Linked DNA regions of Homo sapiens: region 1 is linked to region 2. Evidence: fine-mapped expression QTL. A gene starts in region 2. The other region holds a variant in brackets. All regions are shown on one strand. Distances are from middle to middle.

Region 1 (8,346 bases), 240 kb before region 2:
CTCTCTTTTTTAAAAAAAATCTGATACCTATACTCTCAGTTGACAATTTTTCTGTCTACATGACTACCACCAAAACCATATCTACCCACTTATCTATCCTTGTGTCCATATCCTCTACATTCTTACATGTTAGAAGATTTCTGCATCTCTAGTTAAGGCCAACTCTTCTTGTGAAATGGCTCCTATCACTAACCACCTACCAAAGAAAACTGCTCACAATCATATAAATGTGGCCAAGGAATGTCCTTAAGTGAAAAAAAAGTCAAGTTTCAGATCTGAATGGGCCAACGTTGAGAAGAATATTCTAAAAAGAAGAAAAAGTAAACTTACAGCTGTCTCATGAATAGTATATTCACTTTTTGTTATTATTGTTGACAAATATATTAATATTTATTCAATCTTTTATCAATTCACTCATTTAATCTTTCACTTATAAGTTTATCCAGCATTTACTCTGTGCAAGGCATTAGTCTAACCCTGTGGATAAAGCAATGCAGAAAACAGACAAAAACGTAAGCTGTCACGAGCTGACTTTTCTAGTATGGGACTAGATAAGAAATACATACATAAATAAGATATACAGTATGTTAGATGGCAATAAGTGCTATGAAGAAAATGCAGCAGGAGGAGTGAGAATAGGTCAGGAAAAAAGGGTTTCAGTTTTACAAAGTGTGATCAGAGAAAGCCTCTCTGGCAGGGAAAAATTCAGGTAAAAATAAAGAAGAGTTTACTCATTCATTTTTCATGAAATTAATATTCATTGAGTAACTACTATGTGCTGAGAGATGCAAATTCAAAATAATCTAATATGTGCTTGTACACTTAGTTAGATTCCTCTCAACATTTATTCATGCTGACACTGAAGCCTCAATTTTTATCATCTCCAAAAAAATTATTATATTTATAATTAATTAAGTCTAATTGAGTTTGACTACTAAGTGTCCAGTAACACACAATTATTTTATCTATTTTAACTTGACTCCACACACAACTAAGAAGTAGTGTCACTTTCTTTATTGTACAAATGAGAAAATATTCTTGGAAACGTGATGGCAATTATCCAAGGTTATGAAACCATTAAGTGGCAAAACCAGGATTCAAAACAAAGAAACTGTGACGTGGTAGCCTGAGCTTGTTCTACTCAGCACACTGCTTCCTTGGTGATTATAAATCTGGAGAATCTAGCCAGAGACAGAGCCCCAGAGTGCTAACACTGAATAAAGATTTCATGGGGCCACCTGAGCGACAAAGTCTTTCTGCTAACATGTGCGGACTATGATCACGTCAGCAAAAGTATCATTCTGAAGAAAGTATTGTTTATTTTTTAAATGTTTCCATCATCTTGTAACAACGCTATCCTCTACCTTTTTTGTTTTTGTTTGGCTAGAACTGGAAGGGAAGATAAAAAGATATAGTGGACACTATGTGAGACCCTAAATAATACAGAAAAATACCCAAGAAAATATTTTAAACCTATGAACAGCTTCAAGTACTATTAGCCATCACATAGAAATTATTGAAAATGTCTGATTTACTACTCTGAATTTAATAGCTGCACAATGTCAGTGGTTTTGAAAATGATTGTGTAATCGCTAAAATAATTTTGTGAAATTATTTATCTCCTTGTACAAAATTTCTTTCCATTATATATTTAAATAGTCGTAAAGGTTATGATTTCCAGTGCTTTATAAAAATGGACATTTTAAAATAAATTTATACTAGTATTTTATACCTAATTGTGTCTCTTTAAAAATATACCTTTAAAAAGCACTAATCTGTTGCAAAATTTAAATTGTTCATTTTATCTTTAAATCTATTTCCATCCAATTTCTACTTCAAAATATTTCTAATATATATTTATGTTTGAAAGTGTTGATTATCTTGCATAGTACTCTAAAATAATTTTAAAAATGAGATAGCAATTGTTTAAATTTTTAAAATTTCTTGTGACCATTAGGCTCTTACCTTAAAAAACAATTAGAATTGAGTAATCATCAGAAGTAATAAAACAATATAATCAATTTTAAATTTTAATGAATATTAAATGCAAAATCTAAGACTGTTATATTCTTAAGGATATCAATAGGGTTTGTGTTTGTTTTTCAATTCATATTTTATATTGTTACAATATGGTATTTTCAATTATATATTTTATATTTCAAAATGTTTACTAAGAAAACAGGTTCACATAAATATATAGATAGAAATGCAACAGGTTTTGCTATAGTCTTATCATTCAATTCTTTTAACTATGGTCGAATTAAATGCCCCAAATCACATAAAGATCTATCCTTTAAAGTTATTTTTAGTTGATTGACCAGGTTTACAACTTTCTTTAGCTCACCATTTATGTATGTATGCATGCAAGTATGTATACTTGCATATATGTATATGCAATATCATAACCTCTGCTTAACCAAGGGCATTGTCCTAGAATTTCCTTAACCCCAAAATGGAATATTTGACCTTTCCAAAAAGTTATAGTTAAGTGAAGAAGATCTTATTATAGCACCATATTACTTACCAGAGAAAGATAAACTTGAATAATAAACAACCATTAGCATTTATGAGAATAATCCCTCTATTTCTATCCTAATAGAATATTGAAATAAATTAAATGTTATCCCCAAATACATTTCCCAGCCGTTAAATTCTATTTTATTTATAAAGAATATCATTAAAATACTCTCAAATAATAGATTCATAATGTAATTTATTTTACTATTATTCAAATATTTCTTATTTGCTTAAAGTACCTATGTCCCTATGGGGAAACAAACATGAATTCCACTTGTAGCCTGTATCAGACTAAATATGCTATCAGTGAATCTGATCAATGCAAATTCCCTACATGTGACATCAGCATCAAGATTTGATGCTATAGGATTTGTACAAAAAGATACTCTTTTGGATTCAAAACAATGTTTTCAATTAGTTTGAAGTGTGGTCCCAAGCTATGTCTGCTTCTGTATTCAGATCCATTAGTGATATTCATGTGTCTTCGTGTTCTGGAAACTCCACTTGTGAGTGGTTCTATCATTGCAGACTAGGAAGAGGTTTTTCTTCCTCCCAGTATGTATTGTGAAACGTAATTAATGAGTGTAAAGCAATTGGTGAGTGCCAGATGAAAGGCACCATAGTGGGTAAGTACCAAAAAAAATTATACAAGCACTGCACAGTGTGTCATCTCAGCTGGGTTTGCTGATGAAATTGCAGGTAATTATCTCTCATTGTGGAGTTCCTCTGGAGAAAGGAGGTCTAAAGTGGGATTGGTCTTACCTAGAACCTAGGACTGTATCTCAGTGAAACTTGTTTGTTTGGCTAGAAATTACTTTTTAACTCCAACTCCATGAGTAAACAAAGGTTTCTGATAACAACTAAGTGAGCTAAGTAACAACTGAGGCATTAAATTTACGTACAGTTTACATTTTATAAGTTTATTTCCAGATGTGCTCAAGACAGTGAGGGTAGGTAAGGTTTATCTCTAGGGTGAGGTCTAATCAATTGATTATGATTGTAAGGAGGGCAATGATGAATAGGATTCTGGGCCCACAGAAAGGGTCTTCAGGAAAAAGCAACATGAGAAATTAGCGGGACTTTTATGGCAGTGAAAACGGAGAGCTATAGCAAAAGTGCATTGCAATGTTTATGCCTGGTATAAGCCATAATTACTATGGTTAAGGCAGAAGGGGATAATGATATTCCCACACATATTGCAGAAAAGGCCTAGGGAAAAGGTGCACCCAGTCCTGCCCAATCATGTTCAGTTCTCTAACTACAAACAGAAAATATATTTAGTTGGATTTTTACCTAAAAAGTGGCTAATCTGAAAATAAGCCATTGAATTCTATTAAGCCACTGTTCAGTAACTAACTGTTTGATTAAATTTAACCTGCTTTTCTTCGTACCACAGTAGAGACAGCTTAAATATCTTTTGAGACAATATTTTTTCGGGGTTGGTTTAATTTCTAATCAAACTCTGAAGGGGCCTTTGGGCTTCAGAAAATTTAAAACTATAGAATTACCTTGTTCTTTCCTCGGGCCAATTAACTGGGCAGATTCTTTGCATTCCATTTGAAGCTTACTAGCTCCTGCATTTTAGC[T/G]AAAGTTTCGTTTCTCGCTCAGCAGTTGAAAACCTATCTCCTTGTGCAGCAGAAACCAAGTATGAACCTCAGGCATATTGAGCTGAACGGCCCTTGGCGCCATCCCCAAACGCTGATGTGCGGAAGATCCCAGTTTCACTCTTCTCCCTTTCATAAGCTCTGAAAGGAAGTGTAGGAAGTATGCCAAGTTGTTATTCAACTCTAGTATTTAATCAAGCATTACCTGGGCACTTCTGAAATTCTCCAGCTTCTAAAGTGAGAGTAAACCAGAGAGAACACAGGGTGGAAACTACTTAATCGAGAAGGCTCCTAGGATAAGTGAGGATCACATGGCCATTCTCAGGCCCCAGTTCCTCTCCAAACTCCTGAAAGTCAGCAAGAAACCGAATCTCAGTCATGATGATTATTTTTCATGTAACACCTCACAGCGTTCTCAGGGATCCCAATATATGCTACTAATTCACTTTGTGTTAAGTAGGAGTTTCTTAAAAAAACAATTTCAGTGGACCTCAGAATAGACGCCTCACTACTGACCCCACTACATTTTCTCTACTTAGGCTTTAAGTACACAAATAGGGCAATCTACTAGAGTACAGAAAAATTGTTTATGATTTCAGAGAATGTGCGGCTGGCATAGAGCAACAAGTGCAGGGCATGACTTGTTTGGATTCCTCACCTGCAAGGAGCAGGGGGCCCAGCACATGTCAGAAATTCCTGCTATACCAGATGACTTTGCCAAAATCTTTGTCCTTTTTTTCACTTAGGGTGAAAAAAAAAATTGATGACCCGTGTTTTGCTACCACTGACGAGAGTAATACCTTGTCCCAAAGCTAAAACGATCAACCTATGAAAACTGGAGGGTTGGGCTTTTGTTGTTGTTGTTAAAGGCCTGAATGAGGTGATATCTTAATGCTTACAGCTGAGAAGCAGGTCAGTCAGGTTCCTGGGCGCTCTGTTACACAAGCAAGATACAGCCAGCCCCACCTAATTTTGTTTCCCTGGCACCCTCCTGCTCAGTGCGACATTGTCACACTTAACCCATCTGTTTTCTCTAATGCACGACAGATTCCTTTCAGACAGGACAACTGTGATATTTCAGTTCCTGATTGTAAATACCTCCTAAGCCTGAAGGTAAGTGTGCGTTGGGTCACTTAGGTCTCTCGCTTTCTCTCTTTCACTCTCTACTCTCTCTCTTCCTTGATTATTTACCAAAGAGAATCGCAGTGGTCTCAACTTTGACAGAACAGCCTGGCAAGTAGCTACGGCAATCCTTGCAGAGACAAGTAGTTGTTTTATTAAGTAATGACCTTCCAAATGAGTATTTGCACTCCTAAATGAGTTAGCTTTAAAAATTACTGCCAAATTTGCTAGATTACAGAACCAGCAGAAGAGTTAAATAAAAGCCTTATTTAAAACATACGTGACTATGAAATAGAATTTTCTTAAGTCAGATCTTAGTAAAGGTTTCAAAATGTTTAAAGTGGAAGTGGCAGCATGAATATAAATTGAATCTTAGATTTAAATTATGCATTTGTGCTGAAAGGTTTTTGCTTTAAGTATTAGAGGTTTTTGCTTTAAGTATTAGAATAGTTTTGGAAAAAATCTTCTAATAAAATAGATTAGAAGCTTCTATAAATCTTTTTCAAAGATTTTCTTAATTAAAAAGTTGGGAAACTGTTGTACAGTACATATAATTATTTAGCATGATATGTGTACATGTCTAACTTTCACTGGAAATCTAAAAGGTTACATCAGTTACTACAGAAAACATCCTATGAAATGAAAATGTGGTAAAATTTCTTAAAATTATTTTCATTTTGTGGCTATATAAGCCTCTTTTTTTATTAAAAGGATGCTGATTTCCATTTATCTACTTTCTATTTAGTCTGTAGAGGCTGCTCCTATAGACATTACAGTATGATACAGAAGGCTGGAAACCCTATGCTTGAAAATTTTGATCTAGAACTTTCCTTTCGGAGAAACTTTCTTTCTTTCTAAGCTTGACACTCATCACTAATTAGTTAAGTACTGAATTTTATGACTGAAAACTCCCAAGGTAGCAGGTCATATGACAAACTCTACATTTTTCCTGTAGTTACATAGCCTAAGTCTTTTAGCCAGAATAATGTTCTCAAACTTCTGAAATTTGTTTTTTTCTTGAAAGAAAGCCAGTCTTTTCTTTTTTATTTTTTCTTTCTTTTTACATCACATAAAAGTAAAATGAGAGGCCTAAGTTTCTCAGTCACAATCCTTTTTCTAGTTGGTTACGCTTCCAAAACCCTCTCATAAAAGAGGCATTTTTAGAAGGATGTCTTATGTCCTCATTTATTGTTGCTCTTGAATTTAGGAAACTAAAAATACTGTCCAACATTGGAAAAAGTCACTCAGAGTAACACTCAAGTTCTTCCTGAGATGTTAGCTACATAGCAGACAGAGTTTTCTTTGAGAGACAAACAAAACCCATCTGTCTTAATTTGTAGCCTAACATCTGTGAGAAGAAATGATCAAACACAACTTGGAGAAAAGGCAGCCCAATGTATAGTCGTCAGTGATTTTACTATAGAAACATGTTTTTATATTATGCCTGCAGTATACCTGAACTGATGATTCTATTTAGAATTTCTGATTTTGATTCTGTTTAGAATGAGTAGCATTTCTTTGCCCTTATATGGGTTAATTACCTGACATAAACCAGGACATCTCCTTATTTCCAAAGCTTGGTATAAAATAAGTATGACCCACGATTTCAACAGAGAGCCTGGACAGAATAATGACTTTATGCATTTAAAAGGAAGCAAAAATATGGACAGTGAATGTGGGTTTGCTTCCCTTACTGGCCAGAGGTGTTTTTTGTTTTTGTTTTTTCTCATCACTTTCTGCAGCCCTCCATACAAAAGTAATAATGTGAAACCACTTTCCAGTGCCAGTAACAAAGAAGGCGAAAGTCGTGTTCATTCTCCCTCTGTAGAGGAGTTGTTCTAAAACAGTGACACTATGAAAATATATTTTAAAACTAGTTAAATTTTAAAACAAAAAAAATGTTAATATATACAGGAAAGTTTAGAATCTGTATTTAAGGTATCACAAAGGAACTGGAAATCCTCCTTTCTTTCTCTGTTCACTTTATAGTAATTCTACCTTTAGAAGGTTTTCGAGTTTGTGATGATCCTAAACCTCTATTTTATAACTTCAAAATTTCTCTTAGGAGCTACCACCCAGATGCAAAAAGAGGCAAAGATCAGGAGGTGAAATCATTACTGGGTTCTCCTGATTTCTCTCCCTCTGCAATTCTACTTTTCTTTCATCCCACCTTCTGTCTGCCCCCACAGTGCACCTGGCTGACAGATGAACTTGGGTGCACTCAGGGATACCATCCATAATCCATCATCATTTCAGCTTTATAAAGCAAGTATATAACATAGAGTTAGATATTTGAACTCCAGAGATGGAGAGAGGCTAAAAGGAAAGCACACACGAAAGTAAAACATATATAGATTTCATTTGTTGCCCTCTGGAGTTGCTGTCCCACCTCCATTAGGCTTCTGTCACTTGCAATGTGCTTTGTTCAGTTGGCATGAGGTCAAACTTCGGCCAAATCTCCTGGACCTTACTCCAGCAAAATTTCATGGTGGGGTTCTGAATAACGGATGACTTCAATTCCTGGCTGCTTCTACGACTTTAAGATGAAAGGAACCTGAGTAAGTGGCGTAACCTGGCTCTCCTAGAAGCCAGGCAGCAGAGGCAAACTTGTCCCTACTGCAATGTCAGGACAATCCGTCTTCACAAAAGCCTTATCTGTAGTGTATAAATTTCTGAATAAACCATAAATATTTAATAGTATTCACAACATACTGAACTACCCCTCTCTTCCATTTCTCTCCTTTTCCTGGGAGATAAATTATAGGCAGTAACAGAGTGCTTCGCACGTTTGGGGGTGTTGATACCCTAGGTTTTCAAGTTACAATCAAAAGCTGGGTAAAGGAATGAGAGATCCCCTTGGTGGTTCAATGTCACAGGCAAGGTGAAACAGGAACAACAGAATTCACTTTATTGACTCTTGATGTGTAGATTTTCATTACAGGCAGGTAATGAAAGCTCAATGCCATGTCTCTCACATAATATTATAAGAAAAATAGAAGAACAGCTAAGGACATTTTTCCCCCCACTGGTGACCACTTTATTAGGAAGAGAAAAATAGCAAAACAACTAGATATAGAGAAAATAAATCGAATGCCATAATAAT
Region 2 (8,346 bases):
CTTCTTCATAAACACAACTGGCACTGCCAAAAAACAAAACGTCAACATTTTCCTACAGAAGTGCAGAGTTGTCTGCAATTCTCGTAAAGGTGTTTAGCAAATCTCTCAAACTTCCTATAGTAGCAAGTCCTTTAAGGAGGAGGGTTTTGCAGCAACAGATTCAGCAACAAAAGAGGACTGAATAATGCTATTATTAAGCACAGTCCCTGGCATACACGCAGCAAAAGCATGGTACTTAAGAGTGGACAGTAAATAAATACCATTTCTTGCAAAAACATTTTAGATTATAAAGTTAATTACAAACCTAAAAATTTCTATGGGAATTTTTTGGAAGTTTTCCTGAGGGATGGACATATGAATTGAGGAGAGTTTGTGATAGTTAACTCCAGACTATTTTAAAAAACCATCCATAGATGGTCTGGAGTCCACTGTTTTCCTTAAGATGAATCCCAAAGTAATAAAGCTGCGTGATGCAAAAGAAAAAAAAAGGCAAGAAATTATAAGGGAACTGCTAAGAGTCCAATATACTACTAAAGAGCCAACCAAAGGTGAATGAGCCTAGATGAATTTTAGTAAGGAAAATCACTAAATTTTTTGAGCCCCAACTGTGTGTCAGACAAACTGCTAAACACCTTATAACTCTGCAAGATAGACATAATTATCTTCATTTCACATAAGCAGTTACTGTGGCTTAGTGATATTAAATGACATAACCTGTAAGTAGAATATATTGGATTAATATCCAGGGCTCAAAATAAAGACCAGAGATTAAATTAATAAATTAGGGCTTACATACAGTATTTCATTTCCCAGATAACCAGTCTGGCATCTATACTTATCTATACTATACTTATACTTACCTATCAAAACCAATTTTGATCGGGGATTGGTTAATACATAGTTCTCATATATAAAGGAGAATCCCTATGCCTTGTGTAGAGTTTAAATATTGAGTGTGTCTGTTTTTCAATTAAGGGTGGAAACTTTAAAAATAATATAACAAGGGTGATTTCTAGTTATATCAGGCTATTTCTAGATATTTTCAAGTTGAAATCAAAATTTTTAAAAGAGACATTGAGCTCACTTGAATAAAACAAAAGTAAATTCCATCAACTGGATTTTTCAGCTAAATTAATTCGTAAAAGTAAACTAAAAGCAAGGCTCTCCTCTTTATCTGGTCACAGAAGAAATCATCTCTGCCTTCATATGCAAACCGTCCCTCCCATTAAACAGAGGAAGAGAGACAGAAAAGGCCAAAGGGATTAGGAATGTATTCTGTTCATGTTATGTATGAAGCAAAGTCCAAAGAAATTAACCACTTTGTTGAAGATTTCTCAGCTAGTAACAAACGCAAGCTTAGAACCTAGGAGTACAGAGTTCCACTACAGAATTTTCTCCATTTTAATGTGCAATTTTCAGGTTAATTTTATGGTGAAAAGCACATCTGAATGTTTTGTTGTTGTTGTTGCATACCTCCTAGGACAGATCACATCTAGAGAATTATTTTGCTTCTTCCTATTTGAAGAATAAAAATAGCTAATCCTCAATTTGGTCTGTTTTTTTCCTAATGCCCATGCAGGATTAAGAAGCCATTAACCAGAACCACTTAGCTAAAATGAATCTTGCTTCCTTCCTACCGGAGTACTCCTCCTCTAGATTTGTATCCTTTTGCTGAAGTTGCCTTTTGTGCCAAAGAGTAAAGGAAGACTTGAAATTAAATGGCTCATAATGCATCATAAAGGAAACAATGTGAAATGCCAGCAATTGCACAATTTCTTATCACTCTCTTTGAGCAATGACGGTCGGACCTACAGTTGTCAATTATTTCCTTCTTAAAAACACAACATGTATCCATACATAATACATTGTTGTGGGGGCCATTTGAAGCTTCCAGATCCCAGAAATGAGTCACCCATAGCCAATGCATCAGTGGAGGTATTTATTCTGTGAGGCTGTTGCAAAGTTCCTATCATCTTTGTCTTCATTCTGAAAGTTTATGTATGTTTAAAACCATGATTAAAGAGAACACAACTTCTTGAAGCAGTTTAACTTTATTTGAAATGTTTAGAGTTGAAGTAGAAGTGCATACTAGGTGAAATTTTTGTCTACCCCTACAGTCTCACACATCACTCCCAATTTCAACATATATTTGAAACATCCTAGAGAACTTGGGCTTGAACTGAGTACAGAATTATGGAACTGGAAACTCAGTCAGTCCCATATTCTGTCTTACGCAGGAATCCCTTCGAAATTGTTTCTTGTGTGTTAATCTAGTTTTTGTTAAAAACAAACAAAAAAGTCAAGGGCCGGGTACAGTGGCTCACACCTGTAATCCCAGCACTTTGGGAGGCTAAGGCGGGCGGATCACGAGGTCAGGAGATGGAGGCCATCCTGGCTAATACGGTGAAACCCCGTCTCTACTAAAAACACAAAAAAATTAGCTGGGCTTGGTGGCGGGCGCCTGTAGTCCCAGCTACTCAGGAGGCTGAGGCAGGATAATGGCATGAACCTGGGATGCAGAGCTTGCAGTGAGCCGAGATCGCGCCACTGCACTCCAGCCTGGGCAACAGAGCGAGACTCCACCTCAAAAAAAAAAAAAAAGTCAAAGAGCTACATAAAAACAACTGTTGATGAAAGAAATACAAATAATATCTGGAGGGTGGGGATGAGAATATTTAAGTAAATATTTACTTTGAATGAACAAATTCAGCATTCCAGAATTCACACATCTAAGGCACTCTATGGTTAACTGTATCATAATTACCATTATTAATTCAGCAAAGTGGCAATTGTGTTAATTAATGCTTCTGGATAATAAAACTCCAAAAACTGTGAATGTGCCTCAAAATAAAAATGCTCTGTAAAAAGCCTTTTAAACCAAATAAGAAACAAAGATCAAAGAGTGAGGATAACTTGAACATACAGATTCTTGTCACTATGCCCAGCAAGAAACTTGAGGGAGAAACTAAAAGACATAATACGAAGCCCCTAGAAGAGAAACCTAACCTCAAGAACTTGAAACCCAGAATCAAGCATGGGACATGGGCAAACAATAAATTTTCCCAAGGAAGTGACAGAGCCCCTTTAACTGCAACAGGCCAACTCTGGAACTCCCCCAAGAATTCATTTATCTTATGATTGTGTAAATGCGTCTCAAGGAGTAGACACACTTTTGTGAAGATTACTCAACATTTGAACCACAGAAGACGGCAGATATTGTTGAACATTTCTGTCCTCACCCCTCAGAGCTCTACTGAGCTATTCGGACAATCCCTACTAAGCGGGTTTACTGCAGTGCATTGAAACAGTCTTCACAGAGATATACATTAAGTCAAGTCCTGAAATGACGAATTCCGATACTCCCAGGCACTGTGCGGAGGCTCAGAAAATCACTCATCTAGGATGCAGAGTGAAGAGGAATTTAATTTTTTTTTTTTTTTTAACTTCACAGAGTTCCCCACCTCTGTGTCGCATAAGCCTGCAAAGGATGCTCCTACACAACTGCAAGGGCATGCAGGGGGGAAGTGACGCCCGCAGGGAGAGGGGAGCAAGATTCCAACTGACCTTTTTGCTGTTTAAAGGACTGAATGGAGCCTGAATGGTGGACCATTTTCACTCTGCGCGTCCCAGCCGGCTTAGGGAGCTGCCCGAGAGGGAGGCGGAGGAACAGTAGCCAGACTCTAGACGCTCCAAGGTCCGGAGCCTCAGCGAGCGCACTGCAATCCGACACCTGCTGTAGCCGGCACTTCGCTCTCCAGGCTACGCGCCCGCCGGTGTCGTTGTCATGGGAACGCGGGAGGGCGGTCTAGCGTCCGGCTCCCCTTAGCGGCTACTCTGGGAACAACCCCGCATCCCCCGCGCGTCCAGTGCCACAGTGAGGGGTGGGCGTTGAGCGGGGTTGGCTGGGAGTGGGAGCAGAAGACTTTACTGGAGGAGGAGATATAAATCGGAGCAAACCTCTAGAGCTGATACTGATGCCCTCTTTGCCAAGCTTTGAGGCTGGTTATTTATTTCCTAAAAGTTGGTAGGTAAACCCTGGGACTTTTAAGGAAGGGCAAAGTTGGTCTGTGCTCTGAGAGGGTATGCAGTGGCAGATGCAGAGACGTTTCTGTTTTTCTTTCTTAAATTTAAGTAGAGGGGGCAGAAAGCCACCCCAGCTTAGTTAGCCAGTAGCATGTTTTATTAGGTAAGCTGTGTTCTATGTCTAGCACTTTTCACTTGAGTTTTCCTCTTCTTCTTCTGCCATTCAGGCCTTGAATCATTTATGATGATGATGACTGAGGACCATTTATAACCTACTTAGTCACAGGGGCTGAAAAAACACTACCCACGATGCTCGATTTAATCTTCATAAAAGCCCTGTAATGTAGGTAAACTATGATTCTAATATTATAAAAAGAAACTTAAGATCAGAGCAACAAAGATTTCTCAAGACCACATAAATCAACACCTTATTTGAAAGAGAAGGCACCCGATACCCAAAGAAGTGAAGTAACTCTTTTTGTTTAGTTTGAGAAGTTTTATTTTATTATTTATTTATATCTTCACCATGTATTTTAAGTTCGTGGTACATGTGCAGGATGCGCAGGTTTGTTACATAGGTAAACGTATGCCATGGTGGTTTGCTGCACAGATCACCCCATCACCCGGGTATTGAGCCCAGCAGCCATTAGCTATTGTTCCTAATGCTCTCCCTCCCCCTCCAACAGGCCCCAGTGTGTGTTGTTCCCCCATTGTGTCCGTGTGTTCTCATCATTCAGCTCCCACTTTGAAGTAACTTTTGAAAGACCAAACTGCAGTGGCCAAAATAGGACCAGAAGCTAGCTGAACACATTTTTCAGTAGGATCTCCTTTCCTCCATCTATCTCTGCTCCCTGATTCAAAGCCCTAAGTTCTTCCTGGAAGATGTAAGATGTTATTGAACAGACACATCGTGAGAGTCCGTTGCTTCCTCAGTTTTGAAGTTTTATGGAATCAACTCAGAATCAGGTGAATAATCCAAATAAAAGCAGATAAAAAATATGCAGAAATTTCCAAACTTTCGATACCTCAAAAATATTGAGTTATTATTGTATGCTGTTTGATTCATCTGTGGTGCATGATACAAAAGAATGAGGGGAATATAGCTTTGAACAAACAGATGCTCCAATTATTTATGGATGCATAACAAACTACCCTGAAACTAAGCTGTAAACTAAAATTTATTATTATTACTTATGGATTTTGCAGGTGGGCTAGATTCAGACAGGCAGTTATCTCTCAGAGTCTCTCTTGATTGTTCAGTAACTGGTCTTAAAGTCATCTGAAGCAAAAAGCGAAATTGGATTCTACTCTCAGTGGGAGGAAGAGCAAACAATGTGCTACCTTCTTTAATGTATCATAATGGTCTTTCCAGAAAGAAATGCTGAGCATTCAATAAGAGCTCAGTATGCAGGCATTGAAGAAATACTTGGTTACAGACAATGAACTCAGTGTGAGTTCACCTCCAAATGAAGATCTAAAACACAGTTCAGAGACTGTCTCCGTAAGGGCTTTTAATACAGATATTGTATAGATGAGGGCATTGAAACCGAGAAGAATAAATGACTTGCTCGAGGATGTTTTTTTTAAATTTTGTTCATCCAGAGTTAAAATTCTGATAGAACTCAGCTTACAGATCATTCTGATGTGAACCAACTCATTGATTCTAATGCAACCCAATTCTCCTACGTGAGGATTAGACAATGAATTTAAGAATGGCAGAAAACTAACACCCAATACTTACTAGTCAGTTATGACCCCTGTAGATCTCATTTAAATGTTTAAAACCCCCTTTTAAATCACCGGTTTTAGAATCAGAAATATTTTTGAAATTTAAACTTTAATTCAATCCCTGGTCAGCAGGACTAGTTAAAAGAATTAAAGTCCCCTCGCCGGGCGGTGGCGGGCGCCTGTAGTCCCAGCTACTCAGGAGGCTGAGGCAGGAGAATGGCTTGAACCCGGGAGGCGGAGCTTGCGGTGAGCCTAGATCGCACCACCGCACTCCAGCCTGGGAAACAGAGCGAGACTCCGTCTCAAAAAAAAAAAAAAAAAATTTAAGTCCCTCTATTCCACATTTCTAGGCACAGGTATCACCTTTACCTTCCTAAGATCTTTTTCTGTTGATCCCTGATTTTCTCCAACCTACTCCCTGATCCAAAACCCAGCAGGAGGCAAATATGTATCTGCCAGAACTAGAAATGAGTTGAGATTTTGAACCTCATTGGATTTTTTTCCAAGGAAAGAATGTTTGTTATTATTTCTAACACCCTTGCACCCTAACCTCCTTGGTGCAGCTATGATTAAACTATCTTGTCATAAAGTTAATTACTTTTCTTAAAATTAGAAACATTTTAGGTTGGACTGCCAGATTGACTAGCAGGGGATTCAAAGAACATCTTTGCTTGTTTTAAAATCAGTCTTTTAGGGGAGGTTGCTAGAGGAACAGCTTTGTGAGGGGCCGAGGAAATTTGAAGCACCATCTGCTTTATAGAAAGGCAGTGCAAAGAGAAAAAGATTCCTCTCTCTCTCTCTCTCTCTGTGTGTGTGTGTGTGTGTGTGTGTGTGTGTGTAAAGAAAGAAAGTACGTTTTGGAAGTGTAGAAAGAAGAGTTTGAGCAAAAGCCCTCTTTTTTAACTCAAAATAAAAATTCTGTGTTGGGGTAAAAGGAAGCATTTTGATGGACTGACATTTCCATTGTGGACAGTTTAAGAATGGATAGCAAGTAGCCTCATTAAGGAAAGCTAAGCTAACTATGAACTATGTTGGGTTGCTTTTTCCTACTATTTTTAGCTTCAAACATTTTTCTCCAAATTTTAATGACATGCAAAATGTGTATTTTATATAATGTTTAGTGAGGGGGCATGATTAATGTATAATACACAGTACAGTCTTGACTCTGTTTTCCAAAGTAGAAAAAAAAAGCCTAGAAATAAACATGCGAAAATGTCTGGAGTAATCATGCTTGCAAGTTGAGTAAAGGGTAATATTTTTTATACTTTCATATATTTTTATCATTTTCATACTTTATCAATGATATGTGTTGATTTTATCCTTATTACATGCATAGATCTTCAACCCCCCTACCCATATACCTGTCTTGCTACAACTTCAATTTTTCTCTTTTTTCTCTTTGGACCTAGGGTTTCGTTCCCCTTCATGTTTCTGCTGCTCTTGCTCCCCACAACTCACAACCTGTCTCCTGTCCTCCTTAAGTAATTAACTTTGCAGCCCCCCTGCTAACATTTGCTCCCCAGAGAGGTAAGAAACTCTGATGTTTACATCACTGGGAGACTTTTTATTCCTTTGAATTTCGAAATAGGTCCCTCAGCTCAGCCAGTTGTGAGTTTCTCTGTATTGTGCTCTGTCAAAGGGACTGAGAGAGTCCTGTTTCTGCCTCTTTGGGTCATGAATCACTGCCTTAATTAAAATTGGAATTGTGAATGATACTTCTCATTGCCTAAATGGTAACAGAAATGGAAAAGCAGTACTTTCCTGCTTCTAGTTTCTCTCCGTATATTAAAGACAAAAACCAGCTCTGTAAAAAAGTCATATACTATCATAAAAGGAAAAATGGAGTGAAATTTAACAATTTTCTCCCTAAAAGCCTATGGTTTCTGGCCACATGTGACAGTATAACAGCAGAATTAAGTAGATTCATCCTGATGATATCCAGGCTATATGCTCCGAGTAGCATTCAGAAGTAGTACTACTGATGGGTGTGTCTAAGATAAAGTCATGGAGGAAAATCAGCAGCCTCAACCTTCTCTGAGTCCAGCCTTAAGAAGTCTTACAAAACAGAATTTTAAAAAAATTAATTCTCAAGTGCTTGGAGCACATGGCATTTTGAAGAGACAGGAACACAAAATGATTTGTGTAAGAAGACAGCATCAAGAGAAGGGAGATGTGTGGGACAAAGGAGGTGATGATGGGTTAAACAGCAGTTCATATCTTAGAACCCTGCTGAAAATCTGAATAATTATTTCAAGTTGCCTATAGGATTAAATCCATGTTGTTTAATCTGTCATCAGCTACCTTGTCCCATACATCCTGTGGATATGTTTGTTGCCTTGATTGTAGTGATTGCATGACAGGTGTTTGCATATGTTCAAACTCATCGTACATTAAGTATGTGCAGTTCTTTGTATATCAATCATACTTCAATAATGTTATTAAAAATAGACAATTTAATTTATTTAAACAAAAATCATCAAGTCCATGTTCACTGCTTTACCATTCAAGGGGCTCCATATTTTCTTGCAGCACTTTCCAATATTGTTTCAAAGACCCTTTTACAAACTCTTTTAATCCTATATTGCTTTCTTCCTT

The links. PIP is the estimated chance that this variant, and not a neighbour inherited with it, causes the effect.
Region 1: its variant is fine-mapped to the expression of ANO3 in thyroid (GTEx, PIP 0.94).

What each region holds. Positions count from the first base shown.
Region 1 is chr11:26,568,929-26,577,274 of GRCh38, reverse strand. The region is part of intron 14 of ANO3 (anoctamin 3); the gene reads right to left. MUC15 (mucin 15, cell surface associated) reads left to right here and starts at 5,012. Exons shown (of 5, transcript NM_001135091.2): 1 at 5,012-5,234. The variant T/G (reference allele first, on the strand shown) is at 4,104.
Region 2 is chr11:26,327,540-26,335,885 of GRCh38, reverse strand. ANO3 (anoctamin 3) reads right to left here and starts at 3,756. Exons shown (of 27, transcript NM_031418.4): 1 at 3,565-3,756. The coding sequence starts at 3,610. LOC105376598 (a long non-coding RNA gene) reads left to right here and starts at 3,912. Exons shown (of 3, transcript XR_931138.3): 1 at 3,912-4,024; 2 at 4,251-4,366; 3 at 7,161-7,633.